2 separate regions of the Homo sapiens genome follow, and region 1 is reported to be linked to region 2. The links are microRNA targets in miRTarBase. Many come from high-throughput screens and were not tested one by one. Region 2 holds a microRNA gene; the other region holds the end of a gene's coding sequence.

The links. Region 2 holds the annotated microRNA hsa-miR-1207-3p (UCAGCUGGCCCUCAUUUC, at 1,890-1,907, opposite strand). A microRNA usually pairs through its seed, bases 2 to 8, with sites in the 3' UTR of a target mRNA and lowers its output. Matches are read on the target gene's strand: a 7mer-m8 pairs with bases 2 to 8, a 7mer-A1 pairs with bases 2 to 7 and ends in A, and an 8mer does both.
Region 1: the mRNA of FOSL1 is a reported target of hsa-miR-1207-3p. Seed matches in the 3' UTR shown: 7mer-m8 at 6,517-6,523.

What each region holds. Positions count from the first base shown.
Region 1 is chr11:65,886,297-65,893,396 of GRCh38, forward strand. FOSL1 (FOS like 1, AP-1 transcription factor subunit) reads right to left here. Exons shown (of 4, transcript NM_005438.5): 4 at 5,753-7,000. The coding sequence ends at 6,590. It overlaps FIBP (FGF1 intracellular binding protein), which reads right to left and starts at 2,175. Exons shown (of 10, transcript NM_004214.5): 1 at 2,038-2,175; 2 at 1,638-1,836; 3 at 1,304-1,430; 4 at 26-126. The coding sequence starts at 2,122. It overlaps CCDC85B (coiled-coil domain containing 85B), which reads left to right and starts at 4,377. Exons shown (of 1, transcript NM_006848.3): 1 at 4,377-5,339. The coding sequence starts at 4,488. The coding sequence ends at 5,096. RefSeq lists enhancers at 2,076-2,145, 5,788-5,837, 5,878-6,037 and silencers at 2,266-2,405, 4,168-4,647.
Region 2 is chr8:128,043,993-128,051,109 of GRCh38, reverse strand. It overlaps MIR1207 (microRNA 1207), which reads right to left and starts at 1,958; the gene lies at 1,872-1,958. The region is part of intron 6 of PVT1 (Pvt1 oncogene); the gene reads right to left. RefSeq lists cis regulatory regions at 1,567-1,819, 5,398-5,899, enhancers at 1,698-2,243, 763-2,879, 4,918-6,389 and a silencer at 2,432-2,615.

The DNA of each region.
Region 1 (7,100 bases), not on the chromosome of region 2:
GATGGGGAGGTGGCTAGCTCCTCACCTGGCCAACCGGTCAGAGAGGAGGAAGTGTTGCTGAATATTGTCCACCAGGGAGCCCCGCATTTCCTCTACCACCTTGAAGACCCGTTTAAAGTTGTCAAACTGCAGGGCAGTTAGGGTAGAAGAGAGGACTGGTCAGAGTGTACACTGTGTCGCTCACCCAATAAACCACTTATTGAACATCTCTCCCTTCCCCATCCACCTATCCAGTCAGCAGATGCTGATTTAGCATTTGTTATTCCTTCAACCAACTATTAGTTATTAGTACTTGTTATCAAATCAAATGCTTAGCAACTCCTGCTGTATCTTGCCTTGGATAAATGTTTACTCAATCTTATCTCTAAATCCAACCCCATTTTAGCACCATGCTCTCCAGATCTTCACAAGTTTGAGTTGGAAGAGACTTTCCTGGCTAAGCCCTAGAAACTAAAAAATAAAAAACAAATGCTAAGCTATAAACAGAAAGCTCACAGGAGATACAAAAGAAAGGCATCAAAGACCCAGAAGGGTTACTTCTTCCTGGCGTACCAAAAAGGCTTGTGGAGAAGGTGGCATCTCACCTCTTGTCTTGGATTTCAAGGGGTAGATATTGCCAAGAACAGTACCCTCCAGGTAGAAGCAACATGAGTAAAGGAAAGCCTGGGGCTGGAGAAATGTAAGCCTAGAGAGGTCTGCAGGGATGAGATAACAGGACAGTCCATAGGTCAAAGCCAAGGAGTGCAGCTGCTACCCAGGAGGCAGTGGGAGCCAATGAAAGTTTATCAGGGGTCTGATAAAATTTCAGGTCATTCTGAAAGGTCACTCTGGCCATACAGTACAGGATAGCTTGGAAGGCACAACAGGGAGCCAGGCACGGTGGCTCACGCCTGTAATGTCAGCACTTTGGGAGGCCGAGGCGGATGATCACTTGAGGCCAGGAGTTCAAGACAAGCCTGGCCAACATGGTGAAACCCTGTCTCTACTAACAATACAAAAATTAGCTGGGTGTGGGAGCGGGCGCCTGTAATCTCAGCTACTGCAGAGGCTGAGGCACAAGAATTACCTGAACCCAGGAGGCGGAGGTTGCAGTGAGCTGAGGTCGCGCCACTGCACTCCAGCTTGGGCCACAGAGCAAGACTCCATCTCGAAAAAAAAAAAAAAAAAGGAGGGGAAAGGGGAAGGGAGGAGAAGACTAGGTATGAAGCTGCTGCCACAATCAGAGGCTGGAACTGGGCCAGTGGCCAAAGGGAGGGAGTGAAGTGTAGATGGGATGCTGTGTCCGTGTGGATGCAGTGCATACCTGTCTCCGGCAGCTCTTGAGGGTGATGCCTGTTTTGGTGCTGATGTCATCCAGGTCTTTCTTGGTGCCTTTGGACAGCTTCTTGCCCAGCACCTCCCGAACAAAGGCCTCATCAAAGGCATAGTACCTTGTGGAGTCAGAGAACACCATTGACCCTCCATAAAAGACAGGAAAGGGAGTCTGGCGGGGCCTAGCAGGGCCTAGGTCTGACCCCTTCCACTCTCAACTTTCTGATGGCTGGGTAAATCCCATCCCTCCCTGGGCCTGTTTCAGCCGGCAAAATGGGTATACAGTCAGACTGGTTGATGTCTCCACCATCCCAGAGGGTGAGCACCTCTCGATGAGTAGTGCCTGCCGGGAGGGCGGAATCTGGAAGATGAGCTGGTGCAGTAGCTTGGGCGGCGCATGCAGCAGCCGCTCGAGCATGTGGAAGGTGCGGTAATGGTCCATGGTGTCGCTCTGCAGCACCGCTGCCGTGGCGCCAGTCTGCTCCAGGATTCCCGAGCGCACCCGCAGGGCCACCGCGTCGGTCACTGGAAAGCGGACGCTAGCATCAGGCCCCGCCCCGCCGACGCCAGAGGCCCTTAAGGGTTTCCATCCCAGACCCCTATAACACCTCTTATTCCCAGGCGCTCGCCCACTTCCCTAAAGGATGCCCAAGTCTTAGCCCCGCCCCCTCTCCCATTCAACACAACCGCTCCGCCGACTGGCTTCCCCACACGCCCCTCACGGACCCGAGTAACCATCGAGCCAGAGGCGATACACGTCCTCGTCGATAAGGGTCGTGTTCCCCACGAAGATGTCCAGCTCACTGGTCATGGCGACGCCCGGGGCCGCAGCGCCCCGAGCAGGAGCGAGCACTGCTCGGGACTGGCGCGCCGCCTTCAGGCCACTTCCGGGAGCGCCGAGATTCCGCTCGCGGCATCGGGACCCAGCTTATGACCACTTCCGGGACACAGCCAGTCGGGGAGGGGACGGGGCGGGAGCGGCGAGGGAAGAGAGGGGGAGGCCTGCGCGGAGGAGCACCGCTTCCTCCCGCCGGGAGGGGGAGTCCCGGGCTCCTGCGTCCTGTCTCCCTCCCCGGCCGTCTGCAGGAGCACGAAGGGAGTGCCTCCTCTTCGTCTCCTCGGTCCCCGTAACTTCTCCCCTCACTTCCTCCTGGCTTTTCTCCCACCTTCTCTGCCCTCTTCGGGACCTCCTAAGTTTGACCTGTATCCTAAACTTAGGGGTTTCACAGGGCTCTATCCTAAATCTCCGCAAAAATGGGGTATGACCCGACTTCCTCGGGCTCTTGCTGGAGACTGGTTTGTCCATCCTGCGCATGAGCACCTCTCCTGGGTTTGGGGCACCTGCTCCCACCTTGGTTTTAATCCCACCCCCAGCCCCACGAGCTACTGACGTCTCTAATTCTGCCCCTCCGAGCTCTGCCTGGAAGTCCACATCCGGAGGGGCCGCCTATCGGCCAAGTCTATCCACACTCTTCCCGTAAGCCCCTCAAAAGCTCAACATATTCTAGACAGACCTCTGCCTCTCCCCATTTGTTTCTTTCCTGCGTCCCTATCTCAGTGACAGCCCTAACATCCACCAGTTCTCATACGAGAAACCTGGGCGTTCTTCCAGACTCCTCTCTCCCCACATTCAGTTCGGCTGATTTGCCTCCCGAATATTTCTAGTATCTGTTTGTCCTCTCCACCCCCACTGATGCTGCCCCAGCCGTCTTTCTGCTTAGCTCTCCTTGCTCTTGCTCTTTGACACCGTTACTAATCTCCCTGTTTATGTCCCCTCCCCGCAGGGTCCGGCCCACACAGATCAGCCCAATCTTTTTAAATACATTTTTTTTTTCGAGACAGCGTCTCGCTCTGTCGCCCAGGCTGGAGTGCAGTGGCGCGATCTCGGCTCACTGCAACCTCCGCCTCCCGGGTTCAAGCAGTTCTCTGCCTCAGCCTCCCGAGTAGCTGAGATTACAGGCTCCTCCCACCACGCCCGGCTAATTTTTGTATTTTTAGTAGAAACGGGGTTTCACCATCTTGGCCAGTTAAAGGCATATTTTAAAATGTTACTCCCTTGCTTAACATCCTTACAAATGTTACTCTCTTGCTTAACATCCTTAGTGGCCTTTGGAAATGCTCCAACCTGGTACTGGAAGTTCTTAAGAATCTGGCTTTTACCTACCTTTGAAGCCTCGCTCTCTCTCTCTTAGCATTTTCTCGACACATCTGCTTTTCAAAAACCAAGCTATCCTCATTGTTCCTAAAGCAGCTAGGCTCTTTCGGGCACCAGTGTCTTTCACTATGTTATTCTCTCTCCCTGAAATAGCTCTTTACTTGGCAAAGTCCTATGGATCTACCAGAGCCTCTTGGATAGCATCTCTTTTGGGAACCCTCTTAAGGACCCTCAGACCATACTCCTCCCGGATTTATTTCTTGCTTAACACAGCTTGACTTCCCGGACAGACTGCGACCTCCTTGAGGATGGAATCGGTATTTTGGTTAAATTTATTTCTGCATGGGCCTTGCACATAAAAAACGTTTATTGAACAAACGAATCCTGTATGTTCCTCCCCCCAGGCAGGAAACGCTCCCTGGGAGGGAGGGTAGTCTATTGGTGAGCTAGGACGTTTGGACTCAGGGTTCCGAGGAACCAGGAGCGATCCTTAGTGGGCCGAGACTTCCGAATTTGATCAAAGGTAAAGAGGGACTGGAGAGCGGTCCATCTGACTTCTGTGGGGGATGGGCAGGAGTCAGGGGCGGACGCCTGAATCTTGTTTCTCAGAAGAGCCGAGAGGCCTAGGCTCAAGCTTGGGGCGATCCGGTACTTGGAGGTTCGAAGCTCCTAGTTTCGGGTTGAGACCGATGTGGAGGGCGATGACGCGCGGGTTCCTTGACATCGAGGATCAGTAACACCCGGAGTGGGTGGGGAACGAGGGGGGCGGCCCCTGAGCTCAGGCCCCGCCCCTTTCCGGGGACGTTTCACCGGATTGGCTGTCCTTCCATAACGACATGCGGCCCCGCCCCGGCGCGCGCCCCGCCGCGTGCCCAGCCCGGGTAGCTGCTGCAGCCTACGCTGCCTCGGCCACTGCCTGCCGCGTGCGGAGCCGGAGCCCGAGCCTGAGTGGCGCCGGGCCCGACGTGGGGCTCCTGGGCCGCGGCGGCGGGCGGGCGATGCTCCAGAGGCCTGACCAGCCATGGAGGCCGAGGCAGGCGGCCTGGAGGAGCTGACGGACGAGGAGATGGCGGCGCTAGGCAAGGAAGAGCTAGTGCGGCGCCTGCGGCGGGAGGAGGCGGCGCGCCTGGCGGCACTGGTGCAGCGCGGCCGCCTCATGCAGGAGGTGAATCGGCAGCTGCAGGGCCACCTGGGCGAGATCCGCGAGCTCAAGCAGCTCAACCGGCGTCTGCAGGCAGAGAACCGTGAGCTGCGCGACCTCTGCTGCTTCCTGGACTCGGAGCGCCAGCGCGGGCGGCGCGCCGCACGCCAGTGGCAGCTCTTCGGGACCCAAGCATCCCGGGCCGTGCGCGAGGACCTGGGCGGCTGTTGGCAGAAGCTGGCCGAGCTGGAGGGCCGCCAGGAGGAGCTGCTGCGGGAGAACCTAGCGCTTAAGGAGCTCTGCCTGGCGCTGGGCGAAGAATGGGGCCCCCGCGGCGGCCCCAGCGGCGCCGGGGGATCAGGAGCCGGGCCAGCACCCGAGCTTGCCTTGCCCCCGTGCGGGCCCCGCGACCTAGGCGATGGAAGCTCCAGCACTGGCAGCGTGGGCAGTCCGGATCAGTTGCCCCTGGCCTGTTCCCCCGATGATTGAAGGCACTGCTTCCTCCACGCCGACGCCCGCCCGGATTGCTCCCCGAGCCCCGGGACCGCTGTGGACCTCGGGACCTGGACGCCGTCCTGGCTGCGCAGGAGGGGCCGCTGGCATGGACTAAGAAATCCTGACACCAAGAAGGGCCCCTCGCTCTTGCTGGCAGGGCAGCAGGGGGACTGAAGGCTGGAGCGGAGGGACTTGCTGGGGGTTGGATTGGGGGTAATAAACCCGGACGGAAGCGGAGCCCACGGCCTGGGCAGCGTCTGTTTGGTACTCGCCGGGGTTGGGGCGAGGGTGGGGTGCTGATACAGGGTACAATTCCCATCCAGAAGGACTGCAGAACTAATGATTCCCCCATTACTTCGAGCCTGGGGTGGGATGCGGGGCAGTGGTAAACCAGACTTCCCCCATCGGGCGCCGGGACCGGCCTTAATCCAGCCCCTGAAGTGGCTCCAGCTCCCTTCCCGGCTCCTTCCTGTCCAAGACAATGGGGCAGGAAGCAGGTGCTGGGGGCCTAGAACCACTCGGCCGCCTCCTCTGAGGCTGGAAGGGGGCATAACAGCGCCCCTCCGTGGCACACGCAGCAGCACTGTGGGCCCCCACGGGGAGAGGGGCGGTAAGCCTCTTCGCTTTTACCCCAGAGGACTGTCTCCCCTCAGTCCCGGAGATGAGGCCGAGCGGATGTAGCCCCACTTGTCAGATAAGACAAAGTCCAAAAATATCAAAGAATTTGTCCAAGGTCATGCAGTGAGTCTGTAGAGCTAAGGCTGGGACCTAGGGCTCCAAATACTCTCCCATTGGCCTCTGGGTCCAGTGAGGCACTCAGGCCACAGCTTCAAGCCTTTTATTCCATTTTGGTAGGTTTGTATAAAAATACTCTCTTTAGGAAAATAAATAGCAGCTGCCCTCGCTGTGGAGGCTTGGATTCCCTGGAGCTGAAGGCTTCTCAAAGCTGAGATCCGCAGATCAGCTCATCACAGAAGCCAAGGGCGCCTCCTGAGCTGTGCGGTTCAGGAGGGGGCGGCAGAATGGCCTGGTCCAATCACCTGCTGCTGCTGGCAGTGGGGCTGGTGAGTTAGTGTTCTAGGTGGGTAAAGTGGCACCTTCTGTCAGGAGATAGGGTTGGGTGGATCACAGGAAGAGGGTGATGGAGAGTGTGGCAGTGATCTGGAAGGGGTTAGGGCTCCAGAGGACCTCTAAGGATCTACAAAGTCTCTGGGCTGCCAGGATTCCTCTGGCACAAATGGGAAATATTTTGTCTCTGATTTAGTGCAAATTGTGCTAGAGAGGCCAGCTCAAGAGAAACAGTGGGCAGCTTTGGTGGCCCCAAGCTGGCTCTACTGTGAAGCACAATATGGTCAGTCTCATTAGAGGGATGGAGAAGAAGTTGCTGGAGTTGGATGTGGGATACTGTCCAGGCCAGCTGGACCGGTGGGGGAAGGGGAGGAGACATTGGCTAGGGTGGCATCTGCAGGGAGTAGGGCTCAGGCGCCTCACAAAGCGAGGAGGGTTGGAGAGCCAAGGGGGTCAGAGGATGGGTCTCCGCTGCTGCTGCTACTCTTGCGATGAGCTGAGGCACAAGGCTCAGGAGTGCTGGGGTAGGTGAAGACCAGGCTGGGGGTGAAAGGAGTTAGGGAGGGTGTGGTCATGAGTGTGGGGGTGTGCAGTGCCTCAGGTTCAAGCACAGGCCCTGGGGAAAGGGAGATACAAGGTACAGGGCGGCAGGGGGCTGGTGGGCTGCTGGTGCCACTGGTACTGCCTGTGTCCCCCTCCTTGGCTCCTTCCGGGATTTTGCAGATGGGTCGGTGGGCTTCCAGCACCAGCTCTAGGCGCTCCTTCTGCTTCTGCAGCTCCTCAATCTCTCGCTGCAGCCCAGATTTCTCATCTTCCAGTTTGTCAGTCTCCTGTAGAAGATCAGGAGAGGAGTCAGAAAGGTGAGGGCTGAATACCCCAGAGCCGCAGACGTTTGGACTCAGGGTTCTGAGGAGCTGGGGTTGGGCGGGG
Region 2 (7,117 bases):
CAAGTGACTCTCTTTCATTCTCTTGGAGTTGAATACTCAATCGTCCCATAAATGGTTCCAGTGCTCAAGCTGAGAATCTTACACCACAGTCAATGCCCTGAAGAAATTGAGACTGTGCTGGGAAGTCAGACACAAAAAGAAAGAGATGAGGTCCACTCTTGCTGTCATACATGAGGAACTAAGAGTCTTTCAAACAGAGGAAGATGACTTTGTGGCAGAAAAACCCACAGAGGAAGTGAATGATGGAATGGAACTTGAGGACAGGTGGAGTTTGAATAATCAGTGGGGTAGTCAATTAGAAGGTTAGGGAAAACCCCATTCATTTATCTGACAAGTCAAGCCCCAGTAGGAGCCTTTAGACAGGTTCTTCTCACAAGAACCCTGCAGGTAGGAACTATCAGCCCAGGTTAATGTCAAGGATACAGAGGCTTGGAGTGGTGAGGTGACATTCCTAGGGTCACAGAGCCAGCAACTGTTGGAGCTGAGGTCTGAACCCAGCACTCTCTGAAGCCAGAGCCCATGGATCTCTCAGGCATCCAAGGGAGAAAAAACAATGGGATCAAAGCACAGACGTCAAGGAAAGCAAGTAGTGTTTAAAAGACAAGAAGTGAGACCTGTTTACCAGAACTGATTCCCCACATAAGAGGCTCGGAGGCATTCAGTCTTTATTCACAGGCTGGAGTGATGTTGCGGTGGACTTAATGCCCCCTGAGAGGTCTGACTTCAAGCCTGTGGGTGACACGGAGCTACTGTTTTTGAGTTGGACAGGGACATGGTCAGAACTGTGCTTTCAGAATTTGGACTTGGCCACTGGAAGAAGAGACAGTTAAACTCAAGTTGCCCAACATGAGGCATGGGATGGGAGAGGTTGGGGAAGGGATGGAAGGAAACAGAGTGGGCACCAACAGGAAGGAAGCAAAGTCAGGAACTGCTGGCTGGAATGGGTCCAGGGAGAGGGAAAACCACTTCTCCTTCCTCTTCTTATGATTGCAAGATTAGTACTTGAGAATTAGGCTGCACAGGCCAGGACTTCCCAAAACTCAGGAGGGAAAGAGCCCAGAGCACGTGTCTCCAATGGAGGCTATAGTTCCAAATCACGTGATCATCGGTCATCTCCTTGCCCACCCTGAAGCCCTTGTCCCCAGTGTACTTTGGGCTCAGACAGTCCCTCAGGGGATACAGCAGTGTCCTTTCCTTCAGCATTCAGGGCAAATGAGAGGCAAAGAGATCAATGGAATGCAAAAGCGTTACTATAGATGAGAAGTCGGACGCACAGAGAGGTTCCACCACTTGCCTAATATCACACAGCAAGTACATGCCAGAATCAAAATTCAAACCTAGAGCCCCGGTGTAAACCTTACCTGAATCAGTCAGGGAGCAGCAGGGAGGCAGTGGAAGGATAGGCCCCCTGACCTCACTCCCCGCCTGCCTTCCCATCCTGCCAGTGCCTTCCAAACTGATACCAGAGAGCATGGCAGCCCTGTGTTGCATCCACCCTGATAATGCATCCACACAGGTCAGCCTTCTGGGCACAAAACAAGGCAGAGAAGAGCAAGGAGTGGACCTGGAGGGGCCCACGGAAGCTCCCCAGCACCCACCACTCCAATGGCCCAGCCCCTGGTAGGTCTCCAGTGCCCTTCACCCTACAGAGCCACAGAATCCCCAGACCTTGACGCTGCAGCTAGGGCCCGCCTGCCTCTCAAGAGAAGGGCAGGGCCCCACACAGGCAAGTGCTCTGCCTCCGCGCAAAGCTGGGCATGCGTCATCACACTCCCGCCTTCCTTCCTCATTCACTCTCCCTTGCCCTGCTTCTATCAGTGGCTCCAAGACGCAAACATCTCGAAATGACCTGCTTCTGTGTAGGTCAGCTAACAGAAGTGCTGTCTTAAGAAATGAGGGCCAGCTGATGCCCACTACCAGACCCAGCCAGCCCCTCCCAGCCTCCCTGCCAGCCCTGCACATGGAGGCCTGGCGGCCAGGAAAAAGAAAGGGCTCCTATCTCTGATTCCTCAGGGCCTCTGATAAGAAATGTCATCCCTTGCTGGGTAATATTACCAAGCCAGATAAAAATCTCTATCAAGCTTAAACATATGGCTGGCTGCAGAACACAGAGTCCAGTGGAGAAGGGTAATTTATTTGCTTAAGCTGAAAACCCTGGGCAGCCGAAAGAAGTGCCTGAATAAAAGAGTAAGAGCCAAATTATAACCTCTTCTGACTTGGCATGGGGATTTTTCCCTGGGAAGGATGAGACACCTGAGAACAACAGGGGGCTCTCCACACATTTCTCCTGACACAATAAGCGCTTTCGCCTTCCTCTTTCTTCAAAGGGCACTTTCACTTATGCTATCACATTTAATCCTCACTACAACCTCAAGAGAGGCATTTTTAGCTTCCTTTACAGATCAGGAAATTGAGATTCAGCAAGGTTAAGTAAAGTGGCCAAGGTCACACAGGCAGCCATGCTGGAGCGAGGACCCAAACCCCAGCAGGTCTGACTCACCATCAGATGGGGAAGCTGATCCCAGCTTCTGGGGAGGATCGGCTCATACATCCACTTAATCAGCGAAGTCAGATCTGCCCAACTTAACTGACAATGTCAGCTACACATTGTAATCTTGAAGGTCCATTTCAAGGCTCTCCCGTCTCCTTGTTTCTCTGTAGCCTAAAGGATAATGAGAAAGCCTTGCAGAGCACAGAAGCTCAAGGAAAAGGACGGGAGGCCAGGGATAGTACCCAGGAGAGCAGTGAGTGACCTCAGGGCTTAGATTCCAGCCTCATATGCTCAAGGAGTAGCAGGTAGAAGGAAACTGTGGAAAGAAAACTCCTCTCTCTGTTCATTCATTCATTCACAAATATTAGTGGAAAGCCTATTGTGTGCCTTCTCTAGCTTGGCCTTGGAGATACCAATGCAAATGGGCAGGCTAGGACCTGCCTTCATGGATCGTCTGTCTTCTAGAACTGACTTACAGGTCAGTAAAGAGGCAATAGCCACAGAGTGTGTTAAGTGTGTTTGTGAATGCAGAAGTTCACGTAACTGATCTGGGGTTGGTGGCTGTGCATTAGTGTGTAGCTGTTAGCATACTCCACACAGTGTTCTAGGCACTATTCTTTAAAAAGTCAGCATTGTTAAGGTTGACTTTGCTCTTTGGTAGTTAATATAGCTTCAAGATTGTTCCCAATTACTTCATATAGCCACTAATTTTTTTAGATTAATTTTTAATTCACAAATAAAAATTGTATATATTTATAATATATGATGTGAAGTTTTGAATGATGTATACATTGTGGAATGGCTAAGTTGAGTTAATTAACAGGTGCATCATCTCACATACTGATTTTTTTTTACTAATTTTTTAAACAGCTGTATTAGTGTTCCATTTTATCACAACTTAATCAACCAATCACTAACTAATGAGCATTTAAGCTGAGTCTCGTTTTTCTGTGTCAAACAATGTTGTAATGAAGATTCTCTTCTCATCATGCATGTGTTTCTGCATGAAAAGTTCTTAGGATTCGCCCAGTGTTTTTTAAGCTTGGCTTTTCCTGTGCTCTTCACTGCAGCAGTAGCAAGGTCTCAATAGCGTCCTTTACAAGATAATGGCTCCCACGCGCCCATCCTCTTCAGACCTGGTGGGGCTCTAGTAAAAGGGTTTTAGTTCTCTTTAGTGAGCAACTGCCACCATTTCCACAAAAGCACACAAGAAAACAAAAACGTTTCCATTCTGGTGGCCAAGAAACCACTCCTCTTATCCCTGCCTCCTCTGGCCCATGGTGACTTAGTTCAGAATCAAGCGGAACTTAGCAGCAAGACACCAACCTCTCTTCTCACAGGTCATTCCTAGAAAGTGTCAGCTTTCCTTTTCTTCTGGACTCTGAGAGATTCAAGAACACAGAAAGCCCAAGGCTAGCAAATCTCCACTGAAGCTCAGCATACATCAAAAACTAAAGCCTGGTGGAGAAGGCACAGCAAATGTCAACTGCACACTTGGGAGCCCAAAGTACCTTGGAGGAAGGCATCAGTCGTCCAACAGAACACCTTTGGATAGTCAAAAGATAAAGAGAGTATGACTCCATGGCTGGAACAAAGTAGAACCTCAGACAAGAGGACATCCTGTTCATGAGAGGTTGGCCATCCACTGAAGACACTGTGGGGGACCGTGAAGGCAGAGCAGACATGAGAAAGGCAGAGCCCCACTCCTTGGTCCCCTGGAGAAAACCAAAGAAAGGGCTGTAATCTACGTGATTAGAGATGGAGAAACTAAGAGCCTGGGGAACAAAGGAAAGGGCCTTACTCATTCTTCCTGGACAAGTTAGAGAAGAGGATATTTGAGTTAGATATTGAAGAGTGAACATTTAGAAGACAGAGAAAAGGGAGAGGACCTTCAGATGGTACTCACAGAGCAGTGTGGCATGGAGAGTGAAAGAATGTTCAGCCAGTGGCCAGACTGTAAAGGGTATTTCTCAGGTGCTGTGCTAAGGAGCTGGGCTTCTCCCTCCAGATGCGATGGGGGGCTGTGTAGGCTCCAGAGCAACAGAATGACAGATTAGAACTATGCTTCTCCATCACCATGGAGCACGAACTAGTGAGAGAAGACTCTCGGCCATGTGGGAACCAGTATCCTACAGTTCTAAGAACATTCCACAAGGCAACAGATGCAGTGGCTTAAACAGAGGCCTACGGAGCCAGGCTCCCGGACTTCAGATCCCAGCTCTGCCATTCCCAGGTTGAACAAGTTACTGACCGACCCCGTGGACAGTTTTCTCATTTGGAAAACGGGGATATCAGCAGAGGCCTCTTAGGGCCATTTTGTTGGTTGTGAGCTGGATGAGTTAATATAAGTAAAGTGCTTAGGACAGTGTCTGGCACACAGTAGGGGCACAACACAAGACAGCTGTTGGGATGGCTGCCATCTCTCTTGTCCCCTTGGTTTCCTCTTTCAGCATTGTCATTTCTTCTGAAAGGTGAGCAGCTATGAATCTGAGCAAGAGTGAGAAGGTTCGAGCTAACACTTGCTTAGGAGGGCTGGAACTACATCTGAAATAGTTTGGGGTCTGTAGCTTCTTGTTAGTCCCCAGAATCCCTATAACAGGGATGCTCTAAGACTGTGGTCCTCAAACTCCACTGCATAATAGAATCACCTGGGGAGATGTTATAAATCCAAATGCCCAGGTCCCATTTCAGACAAAATCAAAATCTTTGCAGCTGGGGTACTAGCAGCAGGATTTAAAAAATCCTCTAGGCAATTCCAAGCTTCAACCCAGTCTTAGAACAACTGATCTAAGAGTCAAATCCAACAGGAAAGGAAAACATGGCAGAGAGGAAAGCATCCCCATCCTTGAGCAGTGTCATCTGCAGAACTACTTCAGCTCATTATGAAGCCGCTCCTCATTACGCCTTACAGGGCAGCTCGGTTGTCACAAGGAGCTAACAGACTTGAAAGTTGCCCTGGATCACTGCTTTTGTAACACACCCTTCCAAAGTCTTCTGGAAGCAGGTAAGGGTAGAAAATACCAACAAATACAGCCATGTGGGTAACTCTTGTGGAAAAAGCATTGGGTTGCGTGCAGACAGCTGGTTCTGGCCCTAGGCTCTTTCACTAATACTACGTAACTTAAAAAGCATATAACACTTATGCATCAGTTTCTTCAGTAGTGAAATAAAGATAAGAACTGACTTACCCATTAGATAAGATGTTGTGGGGTACAAGCCAGAAGACATAGGTCAGCTGTGGCAAAGCATTTTTATTTAACATGTTTTCCAGGTCTTCAATGGAACATAAAAAGTTTAGGAGAGAGAAATGTCCCCTTAAACATTTTTTTTCAATGAGAGAAGGGAGGAGTCAAGGAGTAGAGTTGGTCGGCCACATGAAAGCTCCCTTCAGAGCAGGCTGCCGTGGTGCCTGCCCACAAGGGGTACAAGTGGGGCCAGTGATAGGGCAGGAGCTCAGGGTGTGTCCAAGGGCTGCCCCAGCAAAGACGTTAAGATAGGATATGTTATCTGGGAACAATGGAACAACTGTACCGTTGTCCTAAACCTGAATCTGACAAGAGGGGATAAGACTCCAGGAAGCATGTCCCCAAACCACTGGCCAGAGTGGCCCCAACAAACCACTGGTCCATTTGTTCATTCCTTTATCTACTTACTCATTCATGTACCTTACAGTAGTGTATGTCAACTACATATCAAGAATTGTATGGATGTACAAGATTGTAGGAATGCTGGAATGAATAAGGCTCACTCCGCACCCTCAGGAGGGACAAAGATAAGTAGGGCAAACAAGTGGTATTTAAGTACAACACAATGTGCTAAAGTATAATAAAATAACAAGTATAATAGTAAATAGCCACCACTCATTGATGGCCAACTATGCACAGGCACCATACTTGGTATTTTATATTGAACATCTCAAATCCTTGCTATCTCCTCAAGGTAAGGATCTTTCTGGGGGCAAAGATGGTTGTTATAAGCATTATTACCTTTATTTAACATTTACTGAGTCCTTACTGTGTTGCAGGCACTGTGCTGAGGTTTTGTTTGTTACCAGCAGGGAGGTAGTAATGATTTAGATTAGAGCATGGGCTCTGGGCCCAGATTTGCCTGTCAGTAGCTGGGTGATTTTGAGTAAGTTACTTTACATCTCTGTGCCTGAGGCTGGGTGTGGAGGTCATCTCCAAAATAGAGACTTATGCATTTAACAAATATTTAGTAGGCACTTACCATTTTCCAGGGAATAAAGCACTTAATAAAATTAACAGAAGTCTCTGCATTCCTGGGGTTCATGAGGGGTTGGGGGTGTCAGACTGTCAACAAACAAATAAACAAGTAACTATATGCTGGGTCAGATGATGATAGGTGCTATGGTGATCAATTAAGATAGAAAAAAAAAGGGGAGATGGAGGTGCGAGGTGGGTGCTGTCTGCATAGAGTGGCCAAGAAAGGCTTGTCCAATAAGATGTTTGGGGCTAGGTGCGGTGACTCATACCTGTAGTCTCAACACTTTGGGAGCCTGGGCAGCAGGATCACTTGAGACCAGGAGGTTGACACCAGCCTGAGCAACATAGTGAGACCCCTTCTCTACAAAAAAAAAAAAAAATAAATAAATAATAATAAAAAAAT